Homo sapiens: one gene and its partners. The protein of the gene in region 1 interacts with the protein of each later gene in a pairwise test. Each region holds a gene or a part of one and is shown on either strand. Other genes may lie near its edges. The genes, in order: SYNC, KIF1B, PECAM1 and ACTA1.

Region 1 (8,053 bases):
AATGGTGGAATGGAATCATTACCCCTGGGCCTGAAGGAGCAGGGGAGGGAGCCTTGTTAAGGAACCTGGCCAGAGCTGTACCCATGGGTACAAACCACCCAACAGGAGCCATGGCTTTTGGGGGAGGAATATAGTTAATGCCAAAGTCACAGGCAGGGAGGGGGCATAATAAATATCTTTATCTAGGCTGGGTGTGATGGCTCACACCTATAATCCCAGCACTTTGAGAGGCTGAAGCGGGTGGATCACCTGAGGTCAGGAGTTTGAGACCAGCCTGGCCAACATGGCAAAATCCTGTCTCTTTGTATTTTGTAAAAATACAAAAATTAGCTGGGTGTGGTAGCACATGCTTGTAGTCCCAGCTACTTGGGAGGCTGAGGCACGAGAATCACTTGAACCCAGGAGGTGGAGGTTGCAGTGAGCTGAGATCATGGCACTGCACTCCAGCCTGGGTGACAAAGCGAGACTCTGTCCCCCCAAAAATAAAAAATAAAATAAAAATAAATATCTTGATCTCACTCTCCTCCCTCTCTGATCTCCTGCCAGGGTCCCCAGTTTGGCCAAACCCCACCTGAAACCAGAAGGCAAGGGGGCCCAGGAGACGCTGGCCGCAGGAGTCAGCTCCTGGACACAAAGCTCTGAGAAGGAAGGTTAGGCTAAGAGTAGCCAGCCCAGGGGCCTCTCTCCTCCTCCTGGGTTTGGCTTTGTGGAGGGGCTGAGAGTTAAGAGTGGCTGCGCTTGTCCTTCAAAGCAGAGTCTGTGCCTGATTCCTGATTCCAGAACAGCTTTTCTCATCCTTCCAGGCCCAGGTACTTTGTTCACGAGGCCATCCCCAGTCCCGGAGTTAATTTCTCCCATCCATCCCTGGCTTCCCTGGTTCTCAATGTCTATCACATCACTCAGCCCAGTGATTTGGCATTATTTTCTGCATAGGTTTTTCTCCCCAGGAGACGGTTCTAGCTTCCTCTACACTGAAAGCTTCTTGCAGGCTTGGGCCAAATAAGGCTGTTTGCTCTGACACAGGGCCCAGCACAGCCCAAGTGCCAATGTTTGCCAAGTGAGCTGAATCTTATGGGCTCAAATACCTCACACTGCCTTGCTGTATGCAATCTGGGCACATGTGTGTCTGTCTCCCTGAGTAGACTGGGGCTCCTGAGAGGTGAGTGGCCCAGGCCTAGCACACAGCAGGCATCAAATATTGCCTAAATTAGCCTAAGTAAAACCATCCTCCTTCCCTTCATTCATTCAACAATTTTTTTGGAGCTTCCAGATAGCTGAACATATGGAGGTTCCTGGAGGATGGTGTGCCCAGGGAGGGGATGGAAGCTTCATGCCCCTTCCTCCATAACTCTGCCCTATTCATCTCTTCATCTGTATCCTTTTCAATATCCTTTATAATAAGCCACTAAAGCTAAATATGGCCATGTGACTGAGCTCTGGCAATAGGACACAATCAGAAGTGGTGTGAGGTGAGCGACCCCTCCTTTTTACTTTCATTGGATAGAATGAGGCATTAGAAGGGAGCTTGGACTGGTCTTGGATGGGTGTGGATTAGGGCCACAGTCTGGAGATGGTGGAAGACCAAGCTGTGATTCTGCATCTTTGGCAGATTGTATTTTCCCAAGACAGAGGCAATACTATATCCCATTCCATAAGCTCTTCTTATACTGTGACTTTGACACACCCTTCCCATTAAAAGGTGGCATCTATGTCCCCTCCCCATGAGCTGGAGGCCCGGGTTTTTGTGACTGCCTTTAGCAACAGAATAGGTCAGCAGTGACAGTGTGTAGCTTCCAAGGCTAGCTCAAAAAAAATGCCTTTCACTTCTGCCTTGTTCTTTTGGGACGTTTACTGTTGGGACTTAGCCACCATGCCATGAGGAAGCACAAGCAACCCGTGGAAAAGCCCATGTGGAGGAGAACCAAGACCCCCAGCCAAATACCCTGCTGAGCTCCCAGCTGACAGACCGCATCAACTTGCCAGCCACATGAGTGAGCTGTCCTGGACGCGAGTTCTGCAACCTCTGGGCAAGCCACCTCAGCTGATGCCACGTGAAGCAGAAATGAGCTGCCTCCACCAAGCCGTGCCCAAATCACAGATCTGTGGGTAAAATAAATGATTGTTATTATTATAAAAAACAAAAACAAACAATTTTTTTAAGGTCCTACTATGTGGTAGTCCCTGTGCTGGGCTCTGGAGACACAGCAGTAAACAAGACACATAAAGTCTCTGCCCTCATGGGGCTTCCATTCTAGTGGGGAAGCAGAGAAGAAAATAATTGAAAATGAATAGTATTGGCCGGGAGCGGTGGCTCATGCCTGCAATCCCAGCACTTTGGGAGGCCGAGATGGGCGAATCACGAGGTCAGGAAATCGAGACCATCCTGGCTAACACGGTGAAACCCCGTCTCTACTAAAAATACAAAAAAATTAGCTGGGCATGATTGCAGGCACCTGTAGTCCCAGCTACTCCGGAGGCTGAGGCAGGAGAATGGCCTGAACCCAGGAGGCGGAGCTTGCAGTGAGCTGAGATTGCACCACTGCACTCCAGCTTGGGCAACAGAGTGAGACTCCGTCTCAAAAAAAAAAGAAAGAAAATGAATAGTATTGTTGCAGATTGATAAGTGCTGCACAGAAAATAAACAGGGTGACAGGGATAAACAGTAAATGGGGTGAGGCATGGTGGCTCCTGCTTGTAATCCCAGCACTTTGGGAGGCTGAGTCTGGAGGATCCCTTGAGGCCAGGAGTTTGAGATCAGCCTTAACAACATAGTGAGACCCCATCTCTATTAAATAAAATTTTACAAAACCCAACAAAACAAAAAAGCCCATAACAAAAAAATAAATGGGTGGACATTATGGGCAGGGGGTGGGGAGGCATCAGAGAAGGCCTCTGTGAGATGTGATCTGAGACCTGAAGGAGAGTAAAAGGTGGGCTGTGAAGAGCTGGAAAGGGTTTTCTAGGCAGAGGGAGCAGCAGAAAAGGCCTGGCTGGGTGTGGTGGCTCACTCCTGTAATCCCAGCACTTTGGGAGGCTGAGGTAGGAGGACTGCTTGAGCCTAGGAGTTTGAGACCAGCCTAGGCAACACAGTGAGACCTCGTCTTTACAAAAAATACAAAAATTATCCAGGTGTGGTGGTGTGCATCTGTAGTTCCAGCTACTCGGGAGGCTGAGATGGGAGGATCACCTGAGCCCAGGAGGTTGAGGCTGCCGTGAACCATGATTGCACCACCGTACTCCTGCCTGGATGACAGAGTGAGACCCTGACTGCAAGAAACAACAGCAACAAAAAAAACAACAACAAAGGCTTGGAGGTGGGGAAGTTTCTGGGACCCTGGGGAATTCAGGGTTTCAGCCTAAAGAAGCGCTGAGCAGGAGGGTAGGAGCGGGTCAGAAATTCAGTCCTAGGGACAGCCTAAGGCCAGGTCCTGGGCTGGGGGTTGGAGGGGCAGAGCCAGCTCTTCTGAATGCCACCCTTGCCGCCTGTTGCTTGGTACCACAGCAAACAGAGCCTCTGGCAGGCCTGCCCTTGCTGCCTTAGCTCTCCTCTGGCGGGCAGCAGATGTCAAATGCCCAGCAGCTGAGGCTTCGCCAGCCTCCTCCCCTGGAATAGTTCGGGGGTAAGTCAGAAAATGACCAGCAGCCTCAAAACCTGGCTTTTTCTCGTGCGTACCTTACAAGGGTATATTTGGCTGCCCTGGGTGTTAAATCTTCCACCCCCTTGCATTAGACAGAGAAATATAAATATACAGCCACAGGCAGCACACTCAGACGCGAGGATGAATGAACATTTATCAACCCCCAGTCACGCACAAGCACACAGTCAGAGTCACAAGCGGGACCATATGCATGCCCCCCACACAGAGTCAAAACCGCCAGCCCCACAAAGACACTCCACCATGGCACAATCACCACACACATTCACCCTGAGATCACACAATCACACATCCACATGCTCACACACAGACATGTACCCCACAATCACCGCAGAGTCACACAGGGGCACACAAGCCCACACACATTCAACACCACGGCATGCTTCCCCCACCGGCCTCCCAGGCACCCCAGCCCCTGGGGCTTGTTATGGTGCCAGCATTCTTCTGCGATTGAGTCAAAGACCTCCCCAGACAGGGTAGCTAAGTGGAAAAAGGAATCCGAAGGAAGAACGCCTGAAGCCCAGGTCTGGGAAGGGGCCCAGCAGCTTCTCTCTTGGGGAGAAAGACGTCAGTGCTGGTTTGACCCTCACACTAGTGGGCTGAGGACGTGGGGGGAGGTATGTCTTGAAGTTGACAGAAGTGGGCTGAGTGGGGTGACAGGTGGAGCAGGAGAGAGACCCCAGGAAGCCTCAAAGGGTGGGGCAGAAAGTGGGGTTAAATATGGACTCAATGTGATAGGCGTAAACTCCTCCGCAGTTCTCTCTAACCCCAGCCACCCAGCCCGCCCCCAGGCTCCAGGCTGTCCCCAAACGCGCGGGGTGTGGCCGTGAACCCTCCTCCCCGGCCGCGCCCTGCCCCGCCCTTCACGACAGCTGCCGGGGACAGCCCGGAGTGCCCAGAGGGTGGCTGCGGCCCTTCCCCTCTTGGGTGGGGACCAGAGGGCGCTGAGCGGCAGCGGACACCCCCAAACACTCGCGGGAGAGGGGTGCTGGCTCCCTTTGAGCAGCCCGCCCAACCCTGCCTCCACCCTCCCAGGCTGGACAGGGAAGGTGCTCCCTGGGGCTTCAGACCCCCCTTCTGACTCCCCCTGCAACGGGACCTCACGAAAGGAAGGGTGGAGAGAAGGTTCGGGAAGACGAGGGGGCTGGGAGGTTTGGAAAGACAGCTCCAGGCCCCCGTTCCCACCCCCGCCCCAGGCTGGTCCGGGAGGGGCAGCCTCTCCCCGCCCCCAGGTCCGCGCGGCCGCTCCCTCCTCCCCCGGCAGGAGCCCCGGCCAAGTGGGCGCGCCCGGCCCGGGGCCGGCCGGGATCCGGTGTCGGTTGCAGCTGGCAGTGCGGCGGGCGCGGGCGCCGGAGCGAGGGGCCCGCGGGCCCGGCTATTAATAACGCGGCCGCCAGCCCGGGGTCGCGCAGCCATGGCCAGCCCGGAGCCCCGGCGCGGCGGGGACGGCGCCGCCCAGGCCGCGAGGTAGGACAGTGCCGGGCCCGCGTCGCCGCCCCGCTGGGGAAGGGGTGCTGCTGGACGGGTTCCCTTTCCCCCCGACCGCGGGCGTCTTTCGCCTGTCTAGGGGTAGTGGTCCAGCCGGGGTGGGGCACTGGAGCCGCCTCGTGAGGGGACATCGGGGAGTCGGGCCGTCCCGGGGTCCTGGCACCTCCGTTTGTCTGTGGCTTTTTATAATACCCCTCCCCCTCCCGGGACTACATGAAAATTAACCCTTCCAGGCGAGTGGGCATCCACCGCTCAAGTGCCATTTGGCCCATAGCAGCCAAAGACACTTCTCGCTAGCCTTCATTCCTCCCTGCAAATGTCAGTTGGAGACAGAGGCCTCCCCTGCTGAAGTGGCTGTGTGGAAGCCACTTGGTGCAAGGCTGGGCATCTGCCAGCTTGAAGTTAAGAGTCTGTCAGGGCTTGTTCTCTCCCGTCTGGCCTGGGATGGGTGGGGGAAGGGTCCAGGGGCCCTCCCCACTATCCCTCCTGGCAGGGCACGGCTGATTATTGGGGGAAGGGACCTGTGGCTGAGGGGTTTGGGGTGAGGTGTATTTCTGTCCCAGGTCATACTGTGGCTCTGGGACTTCCCAGTGTACCAAGAGGTGAGGGTGCAAATACATAGCTCCCGACACCCCTTCACTGTCACACAGGGGCACAAAGCTGAGCGGTCTTACACACACACACTCACCCATACTGCTGTCCACACCTACAGCTACAGTCAGACACACGGACTCTTGCCTGCACAATGTCACATGGACTCCCAGCCACATCCCTGAACAGGGTTGGAGAGCTCTGCGGTTCTCTGGGGACAGGGACAGAGTGGCAGAGGCAGGCTGCCCAGGGCCCAAGGAAGCCCGAGGTCAGGGGCCCCAACTAAGCTGGCTTCCTCTCCTCTGAGCCTCCTGTCATCTGCTTCTTTCCCTCCTCTCTCTGTTTAAAAGAGGCGGCTGTGTGAGGGCAGCACCCAGCAGAGGCCTGGCACCATGGGTGGGGTGGTGGAGGCAGCACGATGTGTGCTAACAGCACAGCTTGGAGGTCAGGAGGCCTGGGTTTTACTTCCAGCTTTGCCATTCGACCTTGGGCAGATTTCCTCCTTGGAGTTCATCTGGTTTCTGCCTGTCTGCCCTTACAGAGCCCCACCCTAGGATATAGAGCAGAATGAGAACTCTGCTTGTCCTTAGGAAACTCACTATCAGGGAGACAGACACATGTACTTCTGTAACTGGAGCAATAAGTGTGAAGATGTGCTGCATACAGAGTGCCCTGAGAACACACATGGGGCTGTCTGGGAGATACTTTACGGAAGAGATGAAGTTTGAGCAGGGCTTGAAGGATGAGTAGAAATTTGTTAGATAGATAGAAGTATATTGTGGGCCCGGCGCGGTGGCTCACGCCTGTAATCCCAGCACTTTGGGACGCCGAGGTGTGCGGATCACCTGAGGTCAGGAGTTCAAGACCAGCCCGGCCAACATGGTGAAACCCGGCTCTACTAAAAATACAAAAATTAGCCAGGCGTGGTGGCGTGTGCCTGTAATCCCAGTTACTTGGGAGGCTGAGACAGGAGACTTGCTTGAACCCAGGAGGCAGAGGCTGCAGTGAGCGGAGATTACACCATTGCACTCCAGCCTGGGCAACAAGAGTGAAACTCCATCTCAAAAAAAAAAAAAGTATATTGTGACTGCTGCATGCCAGGCTTTTTATATGTGCTGTAGTTACCTCTTTTGGACCTCACGCCTATCCTAGGAGGGTGGTAAATACTGCAGGCCTTCTCCAGCCTCCACCACTTACAACAGTTGTGGAACCTTGTGTGAGTTCTTACTCTGTGCATTGGCTTCCTCATCTATAAAATGGAGATAATAGATGAAGATTCTTTCTTTCTTTCTTTTTTTGAGACAGAGTCTTGCTCTTGTTGCTCAGGCTGGAGGGCAATGGCGCAATCTCAGTTCACTGCAACCTCTGTCTCCCAGGTTCAAGCAATCCTCCTGCTTCAGCCTCCTGAGTAGCTAGGATTACAGGCACACACCACCATACCCAGCTAATCGTTTGTATTTTTAGTAGAGACGGAGTTTCACCATGTTGGCCAGGCTGGTCTCAAACTCCTGACCTCAGGTGATCCACCCGCCTCGGCCTCCCAAAGTGCTGGGATTACAGGCGTGAGCCACTGCACCCAGCCAATAGATGATGAGGATTCTATAAATGAGTATTCATGTAAAATGCCTAGAATAATCTTGAACACGGTGAAGTCATTCCAAGGTGGGCGGCTCGGCACGAGAATGATGAAAGGGCCGTCTGCTGGGAAAGCAGGGACTGTTGAATATCAGAGTGAGTTTGGCTGGCTGAGCAGGTGCATCCTTCCTGGCCCTGGCTCTAGGAGCTCTGCCTTCCCAGGTAGTACAGGGTTCTCTAGTTAGGTGGTTTTTGAGAAGCTGCAATTCTCAGCTGGACACCGTGGGCTTAGAGTAGGAGGTGTAAAAAGTTAATGCAAGCTCTAGGATGTCAAGCATTGGGTGGGTTGCAGGAATAATGTGAGAGGAAGCTAAAAAAGGTATGTTTGGGGCCGGGTGTGGTGGCTTATGCCTGTAATCCCAGCACTTTGGGAGGCCGAGGCAGGCGGATCATGAGGTCAGGAGTTCGAGACCAGCCTGACCAAGATGGTGAAACCCTGTCTCTTCTAAAAATACAAAAAATTAGCCAGGCATGGTGGTGGGCGCCTGTAGTCTCAGCTACTCGGGAGGCTGAGGTAGAGAATTGCTTGAAACCAGGAGCCGGAGGTTGCAGTGAGCCGAGATTGCACCACTGCACTCCAGCCTGGGCAACAGAGCGAGACTCTGGCTCAAAAAAAGAAAAAAAAAAAAAAAGGTATGTTTGGGCCACATCTTTAAGGACCTTGAAACCATGCGTAGCAATTT
Region 2 (7,281 bases), about 22 Mb from region 1:
ACACAAAAATTAGCTGGGCATGGCGGTGGGCACCTGTAATCCCAGATACTTGGGAGGCTGAGACAGGAGAATCGCTCCGCTTGAACCTGGGGGGCAGAGGTTGCAGTGAGCCGAGATCGAGTCACTGCACTCCAGCCTGGGTGAGAAGGGGAGACTCTGTCTCTAAATCAATTAATCGGTCAATCAATCAATCAATAATAGACATTTCCAGAGAAGAAAATGGAAGGCGGAAAATCATCAACGGCAGAAATAGCACCTCCGAACTCCAGCCTGGGCGACAGAACGAGACTCCATCTCAAAAAACAAACAAAAAATAATAATAACAATAAGGAGTTCAAGACAAATCAATAAATTCTCTGGTTTTTCCTCCCAACTCAACATTTCCATCTTCCTGTTATTTTGTTTTTCAAGAAATAAAATATTACACATAAAGTTGCAGATCCTCATGTCATCCTCCCTTTTTTTGTTTGTTTGTTTTGTTTTTCTCTCTTTCTTTCCTGGGTTAATCTCATCCTGAATTTGATGATTGTCATTGCCATCCATGTTTTCACACTTGACTATACATAAATTTAGTCCTAAACAGTATAGTGCTCATATTCATACTTCAGACTTTATGTATAAATGCCACTGTCCCGCACCTATTATCCTGCACCTTTTTTTTTTTTTTTTTGAGACAGAGTCTCGCTCTGTCACCCAGGCTGGACTGCAGTGGTGAGATCTCGGCTCACTGCAAGCTCCACCTCCTGGGTTCACGCCATTCTCCTGCCTCAGCCTCCCGAGTAGCTGGGATTACAGGCATGTACCACCACATCTGGCTAATTTTTTGTATTTTTAGTAGAGACTGTGTTTCACCATGTTGGCTAGGCTGGTCTCGAACTCCTTACCTCAAGTGATTCACCCACCTGGGCCTCCCAAAGTGCTGGGATTACAGGTGCATTTATTCTTAAATATTGAATAGCTTTTATTGCTTTTTTTCTTTCTTTCTTTTTTTTTTTGAGACAGGATCTCACTCTGTCATTGAGGCTCGAGTGCTGTGGTGCAATCATAGCTCACTGTAGCCTTGACCTTCCAGGCTCAATTGATCTTCCCACTCAGCCTCCCAAGCAGCTGGGACTACAGGTACATACCACCATGTCTGGCTACTTTTTTTTTTTTTTTTGTATTTTTTGTAGAGATAGGGTCTCGTTATGTTGCCTAGGCTTGTCTCAAACTCCTAGGCTCAAGCGATCAGCCTACTCTGCCTCCCAAAGTACTGGGATTACAGGCGTGGGCCACAGCACCTGGCCGGGAAGACTTGATTTTTTAAAAAGATCCCATTAAAAATAGCAATAAAGGCCAGGCTCAGTGGCTCACACCTGTAGTCCCAGCACTTTGGGAGGCTGAGGTTGATGGATCACTGGAGTCCAGGAGCTGGATACCAGCCGTCTCTACAAAAAATAGAAAAATTAGCTGGGCGTGGTGGTGTGTGCCTATAGTGCCACCTACTCAGGAGGCTGAGGTGGGAGGATGGATTAAACCAGGGGGCAAGGGTTGAGGCTGTAGTAAGCTGTGATCACACCACTGCACTCCAGCCTGGGTGACAGAGTGAGACCCTGTCTAAAATAATAGTAATAATAAAGTCTTCCTATCAAAAAGGAACACTTCGGATTTTTGTGTATTGATTTTGTATCCAGAAACCTGATTGTGATTGTGATTGTGATGGGAGAGTGGCAGTGCACCACGTGACTAGGACTTCTGATGTTCTCGTATCCTTGCATTCCAGAGACAGCCCTACCAGATCATGGCTACATTCAATTTTCTAGTAATTTATTTATCATTTTAAAGAGATGCTTTTATACAGAATTTGTAATCTGAGAAACTGGCTGGGCAGTGTGACTTCATCTGTCAGAGAGGCAAAAGGCTTATGCAGAGTGGGCTGTTTGGCCTTGGATCCTGGAGCAGCCTTCTTTGCCTTTATTGACCCTTCTGTGCCTTCTGTGTGCCCTTTGGCTAGCTTCTTCTCCTGCCAATCACAATCACACCCTCTTCACTACGTTTTTGTTTTAAATTTTATTTTATTTTTTGTTGAGACAGAGTCTCACTCTATCTCCCAGGCTGGAGTTCAGTGGTAGGATCTCAGCTCACTGCAACTGCCGCCTCGTCCACCTCCCGGGTTCAAGTGATTCTCCTGCCTCAGGTTCCCAAGTAGCTGGTATTACAGGCGTGCCCACCACGCCTGGCTAATTTTTGTATTTTTTAGTAGAGATGGGGTTTTGCCATGTTGGTCAGGCTGGTCTCGAACTCCTGACCTCAAGTGATCCACCCGCCTCAGCCTCCCAAAGTGTTGGGATTACTGTCGTGAGCCACCGCGCCTGGTTCTTCACTACGTTTTAGATTCTTTTTAGATTGTGCTCCATTGAGAGCTCAAGCAATACAGCCACCCAGGTTTTCGTAACTCTCCATGGCGCTCACCACAGTATTTACGCAAGGAGGTCCACGCTATGATGAAGTGGTGTCTACTGTTGAATTGATGAGTTCCTCTTTATTAACCTACTATAGTTTCATTTTACTCTTAGCCGTCAGGAAGCTAAGAGCTGAGTTCTGTGCTCAGTGGCAACATATTTCCTTGACTATGGATTTTTAAAATATTGTTTTTCTGGCCGGGCGCGGTGGCTCATTCCTGTAATCCCAGCACTTTGAGAGGCTGAGACAGGTGGATCACCTGAGGTCAGGAGTTCAAGACCAACCTGACCAACATAGTGAAACACCGTCTCTACTAAAAATACAAAAATTAGCCGGGCGTGGTGGCAGGCACCTGTAATCCCAGCTACTCGGGAGGCTGAGGCAGGAGAATCGCTTGAACCTGGGAGGCGGAGGTTGCAGAGATTTGACATCGTGCCACTGAGCTCAGCCTGGGCGAGAGTAAAACTCTGTCTCAAAACAAAACAAAAAAATTTTTCTTTCTAGGCATGCCTCTCATTCAAACAGCTTTTAAAAAGTCTCTTGCTTGTTTCATTATTATGAATTTTACGCCTATTTTAAAGCTATACGGTTTCACTGCTGTATGCTTTAGTGTAAGCTATGTCAAATCCTTTTGCAGGTAGGTGGAGCTTAAATTCTATAAAATGAGACGTGATCAATAAAAGCGGATGAAGAGTCTGAGGACTTGAGTGGTGGTGGAGATTTTCCAGAATTATTAGTGTAGAAAATTAATTTCGATGTTTTAGTGCATATGCTTGTACATAATACCTTTTACTCACAATAATACTGTATTTAATTCAGGGGAAGACATGTGATTTTACTTTCAATGTCTGCTAGTAAATAAAAATAATTCACAACCTTATAAAGTAATAGTGCTCGGCCTGGGCCTGATAATTGAATATATTATCACTGAAGATTATATTTTGTTAAGTACTGAATTGAACAGTTTCTGAACAGTGAGATTTTTCTTTCCAGCTGAATCTAAATCTGATTTTAAAGAAATCACTGCTCGTGCTTTTGTGTCCTCCGGGTTTCTAACTTCCACTCTCCCTCCTTCAAGGGCATCTCCCAGAAGGGGGCTGGGCTCGTTAACTCAGGGACGGTGCAAAGCGTTTGTTCCTCTCCTCACAGCCCTTCCGCGGTCTCCCAAGGAGACAAGTGGAATGCCCACCAAGTCATGCTTTTCCATTACTCATTCCGCCTTCTCTCCCGAGGTGGCGCGTGGGAGGTGTTTTGCTCGGGTTCTGTAAGAATAGGCCAGGCAGCTTCCCGCGGGATGCGCTCATCCCCTCTCGGGGTTCCGCTCCCACCGCGCCGCGTTCGGCCGGTTCCGCCTGCGAGATGTTTTCCGACGGACAATGATTCCACTCTCGGCGCCTCCCATGTTGATCCCAGCTCCTCTGCGGGCGTCAGGACCCCTGGGCCCCGCCCCGCTCCACTCAGTCAATCTTTTGTCCCCGTATAAGGCGGATTATCGGGGTGGCTGGGGGCGGCTGATTCCGACGAATGCCCTTGGGGGTCACCCGGGAGGGAACTCCGGGCTCCGGCTTTGGCCAGCCCGCACCCCTGGTTGAGCCGGCCCGAGGGCCACCAGGGGGCGCTCGATGTTCCTGCAGCCCCCCGCAGCAGCCCCACTCCCCGGCTCACCCTACGATTGGCTGGCCGCCCCGAGCTCTGTGCTGTGATTGGTCACAGCCCGTGTCCGTCGCGGGCGCCGGGGCGGATACGAGGTGACGCGCAGAGGCCCAGCTCGGGGCGGTGTCCCGCGCCGGCGACTGCGGGCGGAGTTTCGCGAGGGCCGAAGCGGGGCAGTGTGACGGCAGCGGTCCTGGGAGGCGCCCGCGCGCGTCGGAGCAGCTCCCCGTCCTCCGCAGCCGTCACCGCCGGCCGTCGCCGCGCCCTGGCCTCCCGCACTCGCGCACTCCTGTCCGCCGCCCACCGCCCACCTCCCACCTCGATGCGGTGCCGGGCTGCTGCGTGATGGGGCTGCGGAGCGGCGCCCTGCGGCTCGCGGCGGCCGCTGCTCGCGCTGAGGTGCGTCGGTGCCCGGCCCCCCGCGCCCCCGCGCGCCGCGGCTCCTGTTGACCCGGTCCGCCCGTCGGTCTGCAGCGCGGCTGAGGTAAGGCGGCGGGGCTGGCCGCGGTTGGCGCCGCGGTCGCGGGGTTGGGGAGGGGGCCGCTTCCGCGGGGAGGAGCGGCCGGGCCGGGGTCCGGGCGGGGTCTGAGGGGAGGTAGCGCGGGACGGGCGCCGGGTGCGGGAGCCTCGCCCTCGGGGGAGGGGACCCCTCCCTAGGCCAGCAGCGAGTCCCGGGCCGGCGTCCAGCGGTCGGCTGGGGCCCCCGCAGTGCCCTGCACCGGCCCTCCGTTTCCCCCGCGCTGCCAGGCCCCGGCTGTGCCCAGCGCTCTCCAGACCCGCCGCTGCCTGGCCGTTCCCTGGGCTCCGCGCACGTTGCAGCCCGGGGGGCGGCTGTGCTTCGTTTGAAGCCATCGTTTCTCATTTTCCCTCTCCCCTTTCCTCCTTTGTGGTGGGCATCGGGCTTCGGCTGGGAATGTGGTTATGCCCTTTGCCAGATGGCGATAGGAAAGGTCATCGCTTGGCGCTGGGGGAGCCGAGGGCTCGAGGCCTGGAAAGAGGGGTGCGATAGGAAGGGAGGGGGCTTGTTGGATGCTGGCCAGGTGTGAGGAAGGCTGGTGTGGTCTCGGCATTCAGCCGACTGGGATTACTCGGGCAGCCATATTGGGAGGATGATCTGACAAATCCTTTAGGAGCCAAGTCCAGTTGTTGGAAGGCACCGAGTGACAGCCCTGGCAGCTTTCAGGGTGACTGGCCAGACCAGAAGCCAAGTTGTGGGGGTTGGGAGGCTGCTTGAGCAAGCTAGTCATTGTTCATGCAACACAAAACATTCCCGCCCCTAACGCCAGAATGGAGCTTCCAGATCCCTTTTTTTTTTTTTCCTTGATTGCTAAATGAGCTTCCAAGGTAAACTGCCTTCAAGATTCCATTCTTGTTGGGGTGAAATTCCGTGTTTCTCTATTCATCTTCTGCGTCCAGTGCGGGGGCTGTGAAAGGCCTGCTGATGCTTTACATGTGCATAGGCCGATCTGAGAATTGCTAAGGCCACTGTATCAGTATGGAGGCCTCGAGTAGCCGTAGAGCATTGGATGGATAGATTTTCAGAGTCGCTCGACTTGCAGAGAAGAAGTAAACCAGAGTATTCTGATAGTGGGCGAGGCTAGTGGCGGCATTTCTGAGGACGCAGGCTGTCATCTTTGTGGAATCTCGAGGTAGCTGAAATTAGATTGTCAACAGATCCCTTGCTCATATCTCTTACTGCTCTGAGCAGCTGTTCTGCCACCATTGAACATTCCGCTTTGTGTCATGATGTGCCTGTCTGAGCCTGATGAAAGTGTGCTGATGAGATTTGAATAACTCTTAAGAGGTGATATCATGGTGGATATTTTATTTAAAGGCTGGCATTTTGTCTCCTTAGTTTAGTCATAACAAAATCTAGTTCTTGTGTTCCTCTAAGAAGTGAGGTGGTGCTTTCTGATTAAGTTGATATGGTTGCTGGATTATAGAGCAAGTGTTGTTAATGTATTGTTTGAAGGTGGAATATGAGAATTACACATAGGTTGGTATTGTAAAGCAGGTCTGGAGATGATCAATAACTGGGTTCAGCATGAGTCTGTAGATCTGTTCTTTTCTATATCCTAGATGTGGACAGGACCTGGAGAGATGGCATGCCTGCTTTCTTCTTTGTGGCCTTTGCTTTCATTCAAGTTCAATTTGTTCATAAATACATTCTCATAACTTCTCAGGTTGAACTATGTAAAAAATTTTGGGATGGGTGTGGTGGCTCATGCCTTGTAATCCCAACACTTTGGGAGGCTGAGACAGGAGGATCCCTTGAGCTCAGGAGTTCGAGACCACCCTGGGCAACAGAGTGGGACTCTGTCTCTACAAAAATAAATGAATAAATAAATACCTGGGCATGGTGGCTCATGCCTGTATTCCCAGCTATTTGGGAGACTGAGGTGGGAGGATTGCTTGAGGCTAGCCTGGGCAACAGCAAGACCCTGGCTAAAAAAAAAAATGTGTATATATATATGTGTGTGTGTGCATGCGTGTGTGTATATATATATATATATATATATATATATATATATATATATACACACACACATTTAAAAAATTTGGATAGCTTTTGCTAAGCAAGGTCTTAACACTATTTTTTTGTTATTTTTGTCATCAAGCTTTAGTTTTAAAACTTGTTGAATCAAATGTAACTTCAACAGAAACTAGTGTTTTTTGCATTACACTAGTATGAGAGAAATACAGAATGTCTGTTTTGAAATTCCATGCCCTAAGTTAGAAGTATTTCTAAGTTTTTAATTTTTAGAGTTACTTTATTAGTATAAAGATCTGAATATTTTTGATTAAAAATAATTTCAGCATTTGGTAAAATCAGACCTGATTGTGAATCTGATACAGAGGCTAGGTTTTATGAGTATGTGTAGCTCTGCTCTGATGAGTGTTTTTCCAAAATTTATCCAATTAAGTATAGCTTTTAAGGCTTAGAACAGACTGTTTTTCCTTTTCAAGACCAGATATGAATGCACTTTTCCTTTTTTCTCTCTTTCTTCTTTCCCATTTTGATTTCGTGCAGGGAATAAGTGTCCAAGAAAGTCTGCCAACGGAGTCTTTCTTAAGGCCAAAGCTTTTTAGCCCATTTTCTCACTGTGGTCTTGTCCTGGGTACAAAGTAAAGGACAATGGGCCCCCTGCCTTCCTGTTTGTAATCCCCTTCCCAGGCTGCTAATCA
Region 3 (7,151 bases), on another chromosome or scaffold:
CTAGTATATGGACTTTGCATAAGCACCCACTACTTCTCTCGCTTTTTTTTTTTTTAGATGGAGTTTCGCTCTTGTTGCTCAGGCTGGAGTGCAATGGCGCAACTTGGCTCAGTGCAACCTCTGCTTCCTGGGTTCAAGCAATTCTCCTGCCTCAGCCTCCCGAGTGGCTGGGATTATAGGCGCACGCCACCATGCCCAGCTAATTTTTGTATTTTTAGTAGAGATGGGGTTTCACCATGTTGGCCAGGCTGGTCTTGAACTCCTGGCCTCAATGATTCACCGGCCTTGGCCTCCTAAAGTGCTGGGATTACAGGCATGAGCCACCGCACCTGGCCCCCTACTTCTCTTATTGTTCCCACAGTCCCTGGGCGTGAAAGAATGCCCCAAGCCCACATGATTTCTTCTCACAGCACAGCAACTTACCTATCACCTTCACCCTCAGAACCTCACTTAACATTTTGGCATGGGAATGGCAATTATCTGCAACACACTGGTATTCGACGTCTTCAGTGGGGTTGTCTTTGAATACCGCAGGATCATTTGAGTTCTTGGTACTATTCTCCAAAACTTTACTTGTTTTTAAAAGTTGGTAAGAAATAGGCAAAGTTCCACTGATCGATTCGCAACGGACTTCGATGGTCTGTCCTTTTATGACCTCAAACTGGGCATCATAAGAAATCCTGGGCTGGGAGAGCATTTCTAGAACAGAGGGAGAAACAATCCAAAAGGCACTGAAGGTAAAAGCAAAGCATCCAGCACAAGAGGTTCCTCCTCCAAAGCCTGAGCTTTGCTTTCTATCCCTGCTGTAATTTCAAATGCCTGCCTGCCTTATTTACCTTTATAGGACACCTATGAGACTGACAGGCTGTGTGTGTGTGTGTGTGTGTGTGTGTGTGTGTGTGGTGAGAAGGGAAAGGGAAAGAGAAGTACAATAAGCAAAACAGAGAATGACAGAAATTCAAGGAAAACATTACATCCCCAGAAATACATGTTCATATTTTACCATATCTCACACGCACATGCACACATAATATACTTTTCTTGTGTTGAGCAAAGACACAGAAAACATAGAAAAAGTACAACAAGTAGCCAACAAAATGTGTGTGTGTGTGTGTGTGTGTGTGTGTGTATTTGAGACAGGGTCTCACTCTATTACCCAGGCTGGAGTGCACTGGTGCGATGACAGCTCACTACAACCTCCCAGAATCAAGCAATCCTCCTACCTCAGCCTCCCGAGTAGCTGGGACTATAGGTGCACACCACACCTGGCTAATTCTTTATTTTTTGTAGAGACAGGGTCTCACTATGTGCTCAGGCTGGTCTTGAACTCCTGGACTCAAGTGATCCTCCCACATCAGCTGCCCAAAGTGCTGGGATTATAAGTATGAGCCACCACACCTGGCTGAGCATATATGTGTGTGTGTGTGTGTGTGTGTGTGTGTGTTCTGAGACCGAGTCTTGCTCTGTCACCCAGGCTGGAGTGCAATGGCGCAATCTCAGCTGACCACAACCTCCACCTCCTGGGTCCAAGGGATTCTCCTGCCTCAGCCTCCCGAGTAGCTGGGATTACAGGCATGTGCCACCACACCCGGCTAACTTTTGTATTTTTAGTAGAGAGGGGGTTTCACCATGTTGGCCAGGCTGGCCTCAAACTCCTGACCTCAGGTGATCCACCCACCTTGGCCTGCCAAATTGTTGGGATTACAGGTGTGAGCCACCAGGTCCAGCCAATATATATGTTTTTAAATTATTCTCAGCCAGTCACGGTGGCTCATGCCTGTAATCCCAGCACTTTGGGAGGCCGAGGTGGGCAGATCACCTGAGGTCAGGACTTTAAGACCAGCCTGACCAATGTAGAGAAACCCCGTCTCTACTGAAAATACAAAATTAGCTGGGCAAGGTGGCACATGCCTGTAATCCTAGCTACTCGGGAGGCTGAGGCAGGAGAATCGCTTGAACCCGGGAGGCAGAGGTTGCAGTGAGCCGAGATCATGTCATTGCACTCCAGCCTGGGTAACAAGAGCAAAACTCCATCTCAAAAAAAAAAAAAAAAAAAAAAGATAAAAAAAGTCTTCTTAGTGCTTCAGCCTCTTAACAGATAAGAATTATATTAGGTCATTATTTAGGCATTAGTTTATTTAAACCTTATACAATGAGATTTCCTCCTCCCAAGAACAAAAAATAAAATAAAACGTTATAACACACATTTGTCTCTTGCATTCCTGCCTTTTGAGTTAGGTGGTTAGAGCATTAAAAATAGGCTAAAATCCTGGTTCAGTTGAAGCTATAATAAAATCTTAGCTGGATAAAACACAGCCACAGGTTAAATGAAAGGATCGTGACTGAATAATATAGTGACAGTGACAACTTGACTGGAGTTCTATAATCAACCAGAATCTCGCCACCCAAAGTGTGGTCCAGAGACCAACAGCATCCACATCACCAAAATGCTAGTTAGAGATGCAGAACCTGGCCCCATCTGGGCCTAAAATACTGAATCATAACCTGTATTTTAACCAGGTCTTGCATGCACATTCAGGCCTGAGAAGCCCAGCTCCTGGTGGTCAAATACCTACATTCTGTCCACTGGAAGTCTTACCCTTTTGGGTTAGCCAGGATACAGATTTAAAAAATGGAATTTTGATATTCTTGGCCGGGTGTGGTGGCTCAGGCCTGTAATCCCAGGACTTTGGGAGGCTGAGGCAGGCAGATCACGAGGTCAGGAGATGGAGACCATCCTGGCTAACACGGTGAAACCCCATCTCTACTAAAAATACAAAAAAATATTATCCGGGCGTGGTTGCGGGTGCCTGTAGTCCCAGCTACTTGGGAGGCTGAGGCAGGAGAATGGCGTGAACCCAGGAGGCGGAGCTTGCAGTGAGCCCAGATTGTGCCACTGCACTCCAGCCTGGGTGACAGAGCGAGACTGCATCTCAAAAAAATAAATAAATAAATAAATAAAAGTAATAAAAATAAAAATACAAAAATTAGGCAGACATGGTGGTGGGCACCTGTAATCCCAGCTACTTGGGAGGCTGAGGCAGGAGATCACTTGAACCTAGGAGGCAGAGGTTGCAGTGAGCTATCGTGCCACTGCACTCTAGCCTGGGCGACACGTCTCAAAAAAAAAAAAAAGAAAAGTTTAACATTGACTAAGTAGTGTTTCCTTCCTGAACTTTTGGGTGGGTACTTGCTCCAGGAGGCAGAATCTTGCCAGAATCTTAGCAAGTCAGAGGCCACATCATCATCAGTGAATCAGTGTTCTGAGCAGGAATACCTCCTTGTTTCTTTGGCCTTTGATTTCGCACTTCTCTCCCTCTAGTTCTTACCCTGCCTGAGTCTGCTCAGACCGGAGAGGGCGGCAGCTGCAGATAAATTTCCTTTCTCCCATTCAACCCTGGATGTCCTCTGAGTCAGCAACAATATACTCACCACATACGACTATCTGGACTGTGTTGCTTTTCTTGACCACTTTGTCAATACCTGCAGTGCAGATATACGTCCCACTGTCCGACTTTGAGGCTATCTTGGTGAAATCTTGAGTCTGTGACACAATCGTATCTTCCTTCTGGATGGTGAAGTTGGCTGGAGGTGCTCCTGGGATGGAGCAGGACAGGTTCAGTCTTTCACCTTGGTCCAGATGTGTGAAGGAAGATTCCAGTTCGGGCTTGGAAAATAGTTCTGAAAAACAGTGAGTGGGAATGGAGCGAGATGTGTCTGGCCACCACCCTAAAGACCCTTCCTGGAGAGGCCCTTGGCTCAGGTGCTCTTGGCAGAACCAACTTCCAACTTCCAGCAAAAAGTTTTCCTTTGCTTCTCATGTACCTAACGATCACCCCAGTAAGGAGCTAGGGTTCATTCTTTGCCTAGGATTCCAATGGCAGGTTTTCCTTTCTTGTTAATCCAATTTATTTCAATGACAAGGATTAGAAAAGTTTTGCAACTTGTGGCCAGGTGTGGTGGCTCATGCCTGTAATCCCAGCACTTTGGGAGGCAGAGGTGGGTGGATCACCTGAGGTCAGGAGTTGAGACCAGCCTGGGCAACATGGTGAAACCCCATCTCTACTAAAAATATAAAATTAGCCAGCATGGTGGTGGGCGCCTGTAATCCCAGATACTTGGGAGGCTGAGGCAAGAGAATCCCTTGAACCCAGGAGACAGAGATTGCAGTGAGCCGAGATTGCTCCACTGCACTCCAGCCTGGGCAACAAGAATGAAACTCCTTAAGCTAGCAGAAGGCAAGAAATAACTAAAATCAGAGCAGAACTGAAGGAAATAGAGACACAAAAAACCCTTCAAAAAATTAATGAATCCAGGAGCTGGTTTTTTGAAAGGATCAACAAAATTGATAGACCGCTAGCAAGCCTAATAAAGAAAAAAAGAGAGAAGAATCAAATACACGCAATAAAAAATGATAAAGGGGATATCATCACCGATCCCACAGAAATACAAACTACCATCAGAGAATACTACAAACACCTCTAAGCAAATAAACTAGAAAATCTAGGAGAAATGGATAAATTCCTCAACACACACACTCTCCCAAGACTAAACCAGGAAGAAGTTGAATCTCTGAATAGACCAATAACGGGATCTGAAATTGTGGCAATAATCAATAGCTTACCAACCAAAAAGAGTCCAGGACCAGATGGATTCACAGCCGAATTCTACCAGAGGTACAAGGAGGAACTGGTACCATTCCTTCTGAAACTATTCCAGTCAATAGAAAAAGAGGGAATCCTCCCTCAGGATGATGAGGCCAGCATCATCCTGATACCAAAGCCGGGCAGAGATACAACCAAAAAAGAGAATTTTAGACCAATATCCTTGATGAACATTGATGCAAAAATCCTCAATAAAATACTGGCAAACCAAATCCAGCAGCACATCAAAAAGCTTATCCACCATGATCAAGTGGGCTTCATCCCTGGGATGCAAGGCTGGTTCAATATACACAAATCAATAAATGTAATCCAGCATATAAACAGAACCAAAGACAAAAACCACATGATTATCTCAATAGACGCAGAAAAGGCCTTTGACAAAATTCAACAACCCTTCATGATAAAAACTCTCAATAAATTAGGTATTGATGGGACGTATCTCAAAATAATAAGAGCTATCTATGACAAACCCACAGCCAATATCATACTGAATGGGCAAAAACTGGAAGCATTCCCTTTGAAAACTGGCACAAGACAGGGATGCCTTCTCTCACCACTCCTATTCAACATAGTGTTGGAAGTTCTGGCCAGGGCAATTAGGCAGGAGAAGGAAATAAAGGGTATTCAATTAGGAAAAGAGGAAGTCAAATTGTCCCTGTTTGCAGATGACATGATTGGATATCTAGAAAACCCCATTGTCTCAGCCCAAAATCTCCTTAAGCTGATAAGCAACTTCAGCAAAGTCTCAGGATACAAAATCAATGTACAAAAATCACAAGCATTCTTATACACCAATAACAGACAAACAGAGAGCCAAATCATGAGTGAACTCCCATTCACAATTGCTTCAAAGAGAATAAAACACCTAGGAATCCAACTTACAAGGGACATGAAGGACCTCTTCAAGGAAAACTACAAACCACTGCTCAATGAAATAAAAGAGGATACAAACAAATGGAAGAACATTCCATGGTCATGGGTAGGAAGAATCAATATCGTGAAAATGGCCATACTGCCCAAGGTAATTTATAGATTCAATGCCATCCCCATCAAGCTACCAATGACTTTCTTCACAGAATTGGAAAAAACTACTTTAAAGTTCATATGGAACCAAAAAAGAGCCCGCATCACCAAGTCAATCCTAAGCCAAAAGAACAAAGCTGGAGACATCACGCAACCTGACTTCAAACTATACTACAAGGCTACAGTAACCAAAACAGCATGGTACTGGTACCAAAACAGAGATATAGATCAATGGAACGGAACAGAGCCCTCAGGAATAACGCCGCATATCAACAACTATCTGATCTTTGACAAACCTGAGAAAAACAAGCAATGGGGAAAGGATTCCCTATTTAATAAATGGTGCTGGGAAAACTGGCTAGCCACATGTAGAAAGCTGAAACTGGATCCCTTCCTTACACCTTATACAAAAATTAATTCAAGATGGATTAAAGACTTAAACATTAGACCTAAAACCATAAAAACCCTAGAAGAAAACCTAGGCATTACCATTCAGGACATAGGCATGGGCAAGGACTTCATGTCTAAAACACCAAAAGCAATGGCAACAAAAGCCAAAATTGACAAATGGGCTCTAATTAAACTAAAGAGTTTCTGCACAGCAAAAGAAACTACCATCAGAGTGAACAGGCAACCTACAAAATGGGAGAAAATTTTTGCAACCTACTCATCTGACAAAGGGCTAATATCCAGAATCTACAATGAACTCAAACAAATTTACAAGAAAAAAACAAACAACCCCATCAAAAAGTGGGCGAAGGACATGAACAGACACTTCTCAAAAGAAGACATTTATACAGCCAAAAAACACATGAAAAAATGCTCACCATCACTGGCCATCAGAGAAATGCAAATCAAAACCGCTATGAGATACCATCTCACACCAGTTAGAATGGCGATCATTAAAAAGTCAGGAAACAACAGGTGCTGGAGAGGATGTGGAGAAACAGGAACACTTTTACACTGTTGGTGGGACTGTAAACTAGTTCAACCATTGTGGAAGTCAGTGTGGCGATTCCTCAGGGATCTAGAACTAGAAATACCATTTGACCCAGCCATCCCATTACTGGGTATATACCCAAAGGACTATAAATCATGCTGCTATAAAGACACATGCACACGTATGTTTATTGTGGCACTATTCACAATAGCAAAGACTTGGAACCAATCCAAATGTCCAACAATGATAGACCAGATTAAGAAAATGTGGCACATATACACCATGGAATACTATGCAGCCATAAAAAACGATGAGTTCATGTCCTTTGTAGGGACATGGATGAAATTGGAAATCATCATTCTCAGTAAACTATAGCAAGGACAAAAAACCAAACACCGCATCTTCTCACTCATAGGTGGGAATTGAACAATGAGAACACATGGACACAGGAAGGGGAACATCACACTCTGGGGACTGTAGTGGGGTGGGGGGAGGGGGGAGGGATAGCATTAGGAGATATACCT
Region 4 (7,281 bases), about 200 Mb from region 1:
TGAACATGACATTGACTCTCCTTGCTCAGTTGCAGTGACATTGATGTGTGTATACTGAGCAGGCCAATGACTTTAATGTTCTTTTCTCACCTTTTCTGCCACTGCACTGTGTGCACCTGCCCCAAGCCCTTAGTCATTGGAAGCAAGACATGGCACCATGTGCTGAATGTTTCATATGTCTTAGGTACTCACCTAGTTTGTTGTTTTGTTTTTGGTTTTGGTTTTGGTTTTTTGAGACGGAGTCTTGCTCTGTTCCTAGGCTGGAGTGCAGTAGCGCAATCTCAGCTCACTGCAGCCTGTCTCTTGGGTTCAAGAGATTCTCCTGCCTCAGCCTCCCTAGTAGCTGGGATTACAGGCACCCGCCACCATGCCCAGCTAATTTTTTTGTATTTTTAGTAGAGACCAGGTTTCACCATGTTGGCCAGGCTGGTGTTGAACTCCTGACCTCAAGTGATCTGTCCACCTGGGCCTCCCAAAGTGCTGGGATTACAGACGTGAGCCACCGCACTCAGCTCTCACCTGGTTTTAATCCTCAGATCAGTCTTAAGGAGTATTGTGAGTTGAGAATGCTTTCTGGAAAGTCACTTGTCCAAGATCACATAGCCAGTCAGAGGGGAAGGTAAATGCAGCTCTGCTTGATTCCAGAATGCAAGCTCCTAACCAGTTCATGATATTCTGGGTATAAAGAATGTTGAAGAGAGGGCACTGCTCCAATGAATCATCAGGTTCTTAGAGGTGGCCATGAGTGCAAAAACCACCAGCTTCAGGAGGAGGAAAAAGTAGAAAATCCAAGCCCAAGCCCTTTCTTTGGGCTGCCAGGAGTTGACTCAACTTTTTTTTTTTTTTTTTTTTTGAGATGGAGTCTCTCTCTGTTGCCCAGGCCTGGCGTGCAGTGGTGGGATCTCGGCTCACTGCAACCTCTGCCTCCCAGGTTCAAGTGATTCTCCTGTCTCAGCCTCCCGAGTAGCTGGGATTATAGGTGTGCACCACCACGCCTGGCTAATTTTTGTGTTTTTAGTAGAGACGGGGTTTCACCATGTTGGCCAGGCTGGTCTTGAACTCCTGACCTCAAGTGATCCACCAGCCTCGGCTTCCCAAAGTGCTGGGATTACAGGCATGGGCCACCGCGCCTGGCCGACCCGACGTTTTTAAGTAGCTTGTGAGAATGAGTTGGTCTTTGTCTACCCTGTTCCTGGAATATCTCTAACTTGGAGTGCCCAGCCAGCCCCTCAAAGCTGAGTTTCTGGGGAAGCTACGGCTTTTCATGTCAGGATGTCTTTGGCTCATTACTGGGAAAGATCCCTCAAGGGCCTGTTCTGTTTCGAACTGTACCCAGTGTTGGTGAGGATTAGAGAGAAGCAGCAGTCCTTGCCCTCCCTGGCCACTGGCAGTAGAAGGAAGGACAGCCCAAGCCCGTCTCCTCCACTGGCTGCTGTGGAACCTGGGGTGTGTTTTAGCTCATTAAGCCTCAGTTTTCTTTAAAAAAGAAAAAAAACTGGAATGAGTAATACCTATCTTATTTACCTTAGGATAGTTAAACGGTTAATTGAAACACGAAAGCATATTATAAAGTGTTTTACCAATTCCTGTTTAAATTGATAGGAAACACAGTAGGAAGACTGGAACTGAGCAAGATTGGGGTACGGGTGTGTGGAGTGTTGAGGGGCACAATTGGAGAGAAGGGAAGTGTGAACACACCGGGGTAGTGGTAGCAGAAGGGCCCGGTCAGGGTATGAAGAGCTGAGGCTGCACCTGAAAACTTAGAAGCAGGAACTCCCTGTCAAGCATACCCTACATGGCTGACCTTTACTTAGTGACAGTTCTCAAAAGGCGGAGCAGGGCGCCGCTGCGCTCCCCCAAAACATACATGTATGGAGACGTGGCTCTGCCACCCACCATTCAGTCTATTCTCTAAGCCAATGAGAATGCAACAAGACCAGAATGGGACTGAGGGTGGCCTGTGGTGACCTGTCAGGGACTATTTAAACCAGCCGCAAATCATGTGGGCAGGGAACAGATGCCTGGCTGGCCACCTCAGGGGCCATCTCCCACAGTTTGCTGTACTAGCAGGTCTCTGTTCGCTTGTGAGTGTTTTTAATCATGGTCAGCTTTTAGTGTGGGTTTGAATGTAACAGACTGAGCTTAGAAAAGCTTTCTGTAAGGAAAGGTAAGAGTTGAACTGAGCAAGAGTTTTGAAAAATAGTGACAATCCCATTCTCCTTTGGAATGCGCACAAATATTGAGGTATCCAGTGAACGGCAGCAAATTTCCTACCTTCAAGGCCCAAATGTAAGCTAGTCCCCTTACGTTACATGCAGCTCATTTGCTAAGTGGTTTTTTTCTAGTATCTCCACTACTCGCTGACACAGGAGGACACAGGATGTTAAAAAGGAAATACAGTTCTGTCAATTATTCACTTACTCTCCAAAATACTTGGAAGAACTAAATATGGAACCATAGGAGACTTTATCCTCACCGCATAGTCCCTATACTAGTCAAACTCCTTATTTTTTAATTGATCATTTTTAGGAAGGTAGCATTTTATTCACTAGAACATTTTTGTTAATACTTGTTTATTTTTGGGATGAACTGCCATGATGTGGGCTACAGAGGAGGGTCGCATATGCTTCCATCCCCCTTTTAGAGAATCCACACCTGTCCCAGTTGCTGGGTTCCACTACCAAAAGTGAATTGCAACTATTTTAGGAGCACTTAAGCACATCCGAAAAATGAGTGATTCTGTTCTGGCCCACACCACATCACTGATGTACCCCCTTAAAGCATGTCCCTGAGTTCATCACAGAAGACTGCTCCTCCTGTGCCCTCCACAAGGTTAGAACTGTCCTTGTCTTAGGGAAAAAGGAGAGAGAGAGAGAGAGAGAGAGAGAGAGAGAGAGAGAGAGAGAGAGAGAGGGACAGGCACCAACTGGGTAACCTCTGCTGACCCCCACTCTACTTTACCATAAGTAGCTCCAAATCCTTCTAGAAAATCTGAAAGGCATAGCCCCATATATCAGTGATATAAATAGAACCTGCAGCAGGCTCTGGTAAATGATGACTACAAGGTGGACTGGGAGGCAGCCCGGCCTTGGCAGGCATCATCCTCTAAATATAAAGATGAGTTTGTTCAGCCTTTGCAGAAGGAAAAACTGCCACCCATCCTAGAGTGCCGCGTCCTTGTCCCCCCACCCCCTCCAATTTATTGGGAGGAAGGACCAGCTAAGCCTCATCTAGGAAGAGCCCCTCACCCATCTCCACCTCCACTCCAGGTCTAGCCAGTCCTGGGTTGTGACCCTTGTCTTTCAGCCCCAGGAGAGGGACACACATAGTGCCACCAAAGAGGCTGGGGGAGGGCCTCAGCCCACCAAAACCTGGGGCCAGTGCGTCCTACAGGAGGGGAACCCTCACCCCTTCAATCCCTTTAGGAGACCCAAGGGCGCTGCGCGTCCCTGAGGCGGACAGCTCCGTGTGCTCAGGCTTTGCGCCTGACAGGCCTATCCCCGGGAGCCCCCGCGCCTCCTCCCCGGCGCTCCGCCCTCGCCTCCCCCCGCCAGTTGTCTATCCTGCGACAGCTGCGCGCCCTCCGGCCGCCGGTGGCCCTCTGTGCGGTGGGGGAAGGGGTCGACGTGGCTCAGCTTTTTGGATTCAGGGAGCTCGGGGGTGGGAAGAGAGAAATGGAGTTCCAGGGGCGTAAAGGAGAGGGAGTTCGCCTTCCTTCCCTTCCTGAGACTCAGGAGTGACTGCTTCTCCAATCCTCCCAAGCCCACCACTCCACACGACTCCCTCTTCCCGGTAGTCGCAAGTGGGAGTTTGGGGATCTGAGCAAAGAACCCGAAGAGGAGTTGAAATATTGGAAGTCAGCAGTCAGGCACCTTCCCGAGCGCCCAGGGCGCTCAGAGTGGACATGGTTGGGGAGGCCTTTGGGACAGGTGCGGTTCCCGGAGCGCAGGCGCACACATGCACCCACCGGCGAACGCGGTGACCCTCGCCCCACCCCATCCCCTCCGGCGGGCAACTGGGTCGGGTCAGGAGGGGCAAACCCGCTAGGGAGACACTCCATATACGGCCCGGCCCGCGTTACCTGGGACCGGGCCAACCCGCTCCTTCTTTGGTCAACGCAGGGGACCCGGGCGGGGGCCCAGGCCGCGAACCGGCCGAGGGAGGGGGCTCTAGTGCCCAACACCCAAATATGGCTCGAGAAGGGCAGCGACATTCCTGCGGGGTGGCGCGGAGGGAATGCCCGCGGGCTATATAAAACCTGAGCAGAGGGACAAGCGGCCACCGCAGCGGACAGCGCCAAGTGAAGCCTCGCTTCCCCTCCGCGGCGACCAGGGCCCGAGCCGAGAGTAGCAGTTGTAGCTACCCGCCCAGGTAGGGCAGGAGTTGGGAGGGGACAGGGGGACAGGGCACTACCGAGGGGAACCTGAAGGACTCCGGGGCAGAACCCAGTCGGTTCACCTGGTCAGCCCCAGGCCTGCGCCCTGAGCGCTGTGCCTCGTCTCCGGAGCCACACGCGCTTTAAAAAGGAGGCAAGACAGTCAGCCTCTGGAAATTAGACTTCTCCAAATTTTTCTCTAGCCCCTTTGGGCTCCTTTACCTGGCATGTAGGATGTGCCTAGGGAGATAAACGGTTTTGCTTTAGTTGTCGCCAAGGCAGTTCCCTTCCAAACTAGCGCTAGAGCGAATGAGCGAGCAGCCAGGACCACCCATTCTGGGTTTCCAACAGGCGAAAAGGCCCTTTCTGAGTTTGAAATGTCACAGGGTTCCTAACAGGCCACTCTTCCCTGGATGGGGTGCCAACGCCTTTCCCATGGGCATCTCCTTCCACCCTCACGCTGGCCCAGCAAGCAGGCAGTGCTGAGGCCTTATCTCCCTAGGTGACAGATGTGGTCAGGGAGGCGCAGAGAGGATGGGCACTAGCGTCCAGCTCCTGGAACAGGTGTCAGGCAGGGAGGGCAGACAGGTCTTGGGGAACATGTTCCCCTGGCTATGTGGACAGAGGACTTCTCAGTGGGGTCTCGCGACCCTGTGCCCCTTTTCCTGGTTCAGGGCAGCCCTTAGCCGGGGCAAAGGTCGAGAAGAGAACCCCTGGTCGCCGCCCTGGCAGAATTTGAGTGGCTCCGGCAGGAGATGTCCCTAGGTTCCTGGGGAGGGAGGACGTCGGGGCCAGCCAGGCTTACCCCCCCCTGCCGCTGAGACTTCTGCGCTGATGCACCGCGCCTCTTCGCGGTCTCCCTGTCCTTGCAGAAACTAGACACAATGTGCGACGAAGACGAGACCACCGCCCTCGTGTGCGACAATGGCTCCGGCCTGGTGAAAGCCGGCTTCGCCGGGGATGACGCCCCTAGGGCCGTGTTCCCGTCCATCGTGGGCCGCCCCCGACACCAGGTCAGGCTGCCCCTCCGCAGAGGGAGCCGGCTCGGGGTCCCCGCGTAAGCCAGCCTGGTGCCACCCGGAGCGGCGTTAACGGGTGCGTGGTGTCTCGGCTCTGCAGGGCGTCATGGTCGGTATGGGTCAGAAAGATTCCTACGTGGGCGACGAGGCTCAGAGCAAGAGAGGTATCCTGACCCTGAAGTACCCTATCGAGCACGGCATCATCACCAACTGGGATGACATGGAGAAGATCTGGCACCACACCTTCTACAACGAGCTTCGCGTGGCTCCCGAGGAGCACCCCACCCTGCTCACCGAGGCCCCCCTCAATCCCAAGGCCAACCGCGAGAAGATGACCCAGATCATGTTTGAGACCTTCAACGTGCCCGCCATGTACGTGGCCATCCAGGCCGTGCTGTCCCTCTACGCCTCCGGCAGGACCACCGGTGAGTGCCCGCTGCCCCCAGTCCCCTCTCCCGCCCCCGCCCCCGCCCCCGCCCCCGCCGCTAGCGCTGAGAGCCTAGCCTCGGCCTCGCCCCCAGCCACTCACTCTCTCCCGCGCGCGCACAGGCATCGTGCTGGACTCCGGCGACGGCGTCACCCACAACGTGCCCATTTATGAGGGCTACGCGCTGCCGCACGCCATCATGCGCCTGGACCTGGCGGGCCGCGATCTCACCGACTACCTGATGAAGATCCTCACTGAGCGTGGCTACTCCTTCGTGACCACAGGTGCGCGGCGCCCCTGCACCCCGGGCGGGAGGGCCGGCGGCGGCCCCTGAGTGAGGGCTCCTCTCCTGCTTCTGCCCTCCGCAGCTGAGCGCGAGATCGTGCGCGACATCAAGGAGAAGCTGTGCTACGTGGCCCTGGACTTCGAGAACGAGATGGCGACGGCCGCCTCCTCCTCCTCCCTGGAAAAGAGCTACGAGCTGCCAGACGGGCAGGTCATCACCATCGGCAACGAGCGCTTCCGCTGCCCGGAGACGCTCTTCCAGCCCTCCTTCATCGGTGAGCCCCGCTCGCCCTCGCCCCGGCCCCCAGGCCCCGCCGGCCCCCGGCGCCCCGAGCTTCTGCTCACGCTCCCCGCCGCGGTCCCCAGGTATGGAGTCGGCGGGCATTCACGAGACCACCTACAACAGCATCATGAAGTGTGACATCGACATCAGGAAGGACCTGTATGCCAACAACGTCATGTCGGGGGGCACCACGATGTACCCTGGGATCGCTGACCGCATGCAGAAAGAGATCACCGCGCTGGCACCCAGCACCATGAAGATCAAGGTGGGTGGTGGCCTGCGCGGGCTGTCGGCGGGGTGGGCTCCAGGGTGAGGTCTCCCCACCTCACGCGCTGTCTTGCAGATCATCGCCCCGCCGGAGCGCAAATACTCGGTGTGGATCGGCGGCTCCATCCTGGCCTCGCTGTCCACCTTCCAGCAGATGTGGATCACCAAGCAGGAGTACGACGAGGCCGGCCCTTCCATCGTCCACCGCAAATGCTTCTAGACACACTCCACCTCCAGCACGCGACTTCTCAGGACGACGAATCTTCTCAATGGGGGGGCGGCTGAGCTCCAGCCACCCCGCAGTCACTTTCTTTGTAACAACTTCCGTTGCTGCCATCGTAAACTGACACAGTGTTTATAACGTGTACATACATTAACTTATTACCTCATTTTGTTATTTTTCGAAACAAAGCCCTGTGGAAGAAAATGGAAAACTTGAAGAAGCATTAAAGTCATTCTGTTAAGCTGCGTAAAGTGGTCGTGTTTATTTGCTTGGGGCGGGAGTGGAGCAGGAAGAGGGATTCCCATCCCCCACATCCTCTTAAGTCACTTTTCACGATACCCCAAATGAATGGGCTCCTTGGAAGACAAAACTTACATCTTCCCATGCTCCCCTGCCGGTTTC

What was found.
Region 2: the proteins of SYNC (region 1) and KIF1B interact in binary tests that used the Homo sapiens proteins (3 or more experiments, as listed by UniProt).
Region 3: the proteins of SYNC (region 1) and PECAM1 interact in binary tests that used the Homo sapiens proteins (3 or more experiments, as listed by UniProt).
Region 4: the proteins of SYNC (region 1) and ACTA1 interact in binary tests that used the Homo sapiens proteins (3 or more experiments, as listed by UniProt).

The regions. Positions count from the first base shown.
Region 1 is NC_000001.11:32,699,678-32,707,730, reverse strand, and holds the start of SYNC (syncoilin), read left to right. Parts: upstream 1-4,960; 5' UTR 4,961-5,070; coding exon 5,071-5,123; intron 5,124-8,053.
Region 2 is NC_000001.11:10,206,300-10,213,580, forward strand, and holds the start of KIF1B (kinesin-like protein KIF1B), read left to right. Parts: upstream 1-4,270; 5' UTR 4,271-4,579; intron 4,580-5,316; exon of another isoform or gene 5,317-5,439; intron 5,440-7,281. UniProt on the Homo sapiens protein: Has a plus-end-directed microtubule motor activity and functions as a motor for transport of vesicles and organelles along microtubules.
Region 3 is NC_000017.11:64,359,717-64,366,867, forward strand, and holds part of PECAM1 (platelet endothelial cell adhesion molecule precursor), read right to left. Parts: intron 3,682-7,151; coding exon 3,433-3,681; intron 700-3,432; coding exon 424-699; intron 1-423. UniProt on the Homo sapiens protein: Cell adhesion molecule which is required for leukocyte transendothelial migration (TEM) under most inflammatory conditions.
Region 4 is NC_000001.11:229,431,094-229,438,374, reverse strand, and holds ACTA1 (actin, alpha skeletal muscle), read left to right. Parts: upstream 1-4,280; 5' UTR 4,281-4,371; intron 4,372-5,247; 5' UTR 5,248-5,259; coding exon 5,260-5,388; intron 5,389-5,494; coding exon 5,495-5,819; intron 5,820-5,943; coding exon 5,944-6,105; intron 6,106-6,189; coding exon 6,190-6,381; intron 6,382-6,472; coding exon 6,473-6,654; intron 6,655-6,732; coding exon 6,733-6,876; 3' UTR 6,877-7,130; downstream 7,131-7,281. UniProt on the Homo sapiens protein: Actins are highly conserved proteins that are involved in various types of cell motility and are ubiquitously expressed in all eukaryotic cells.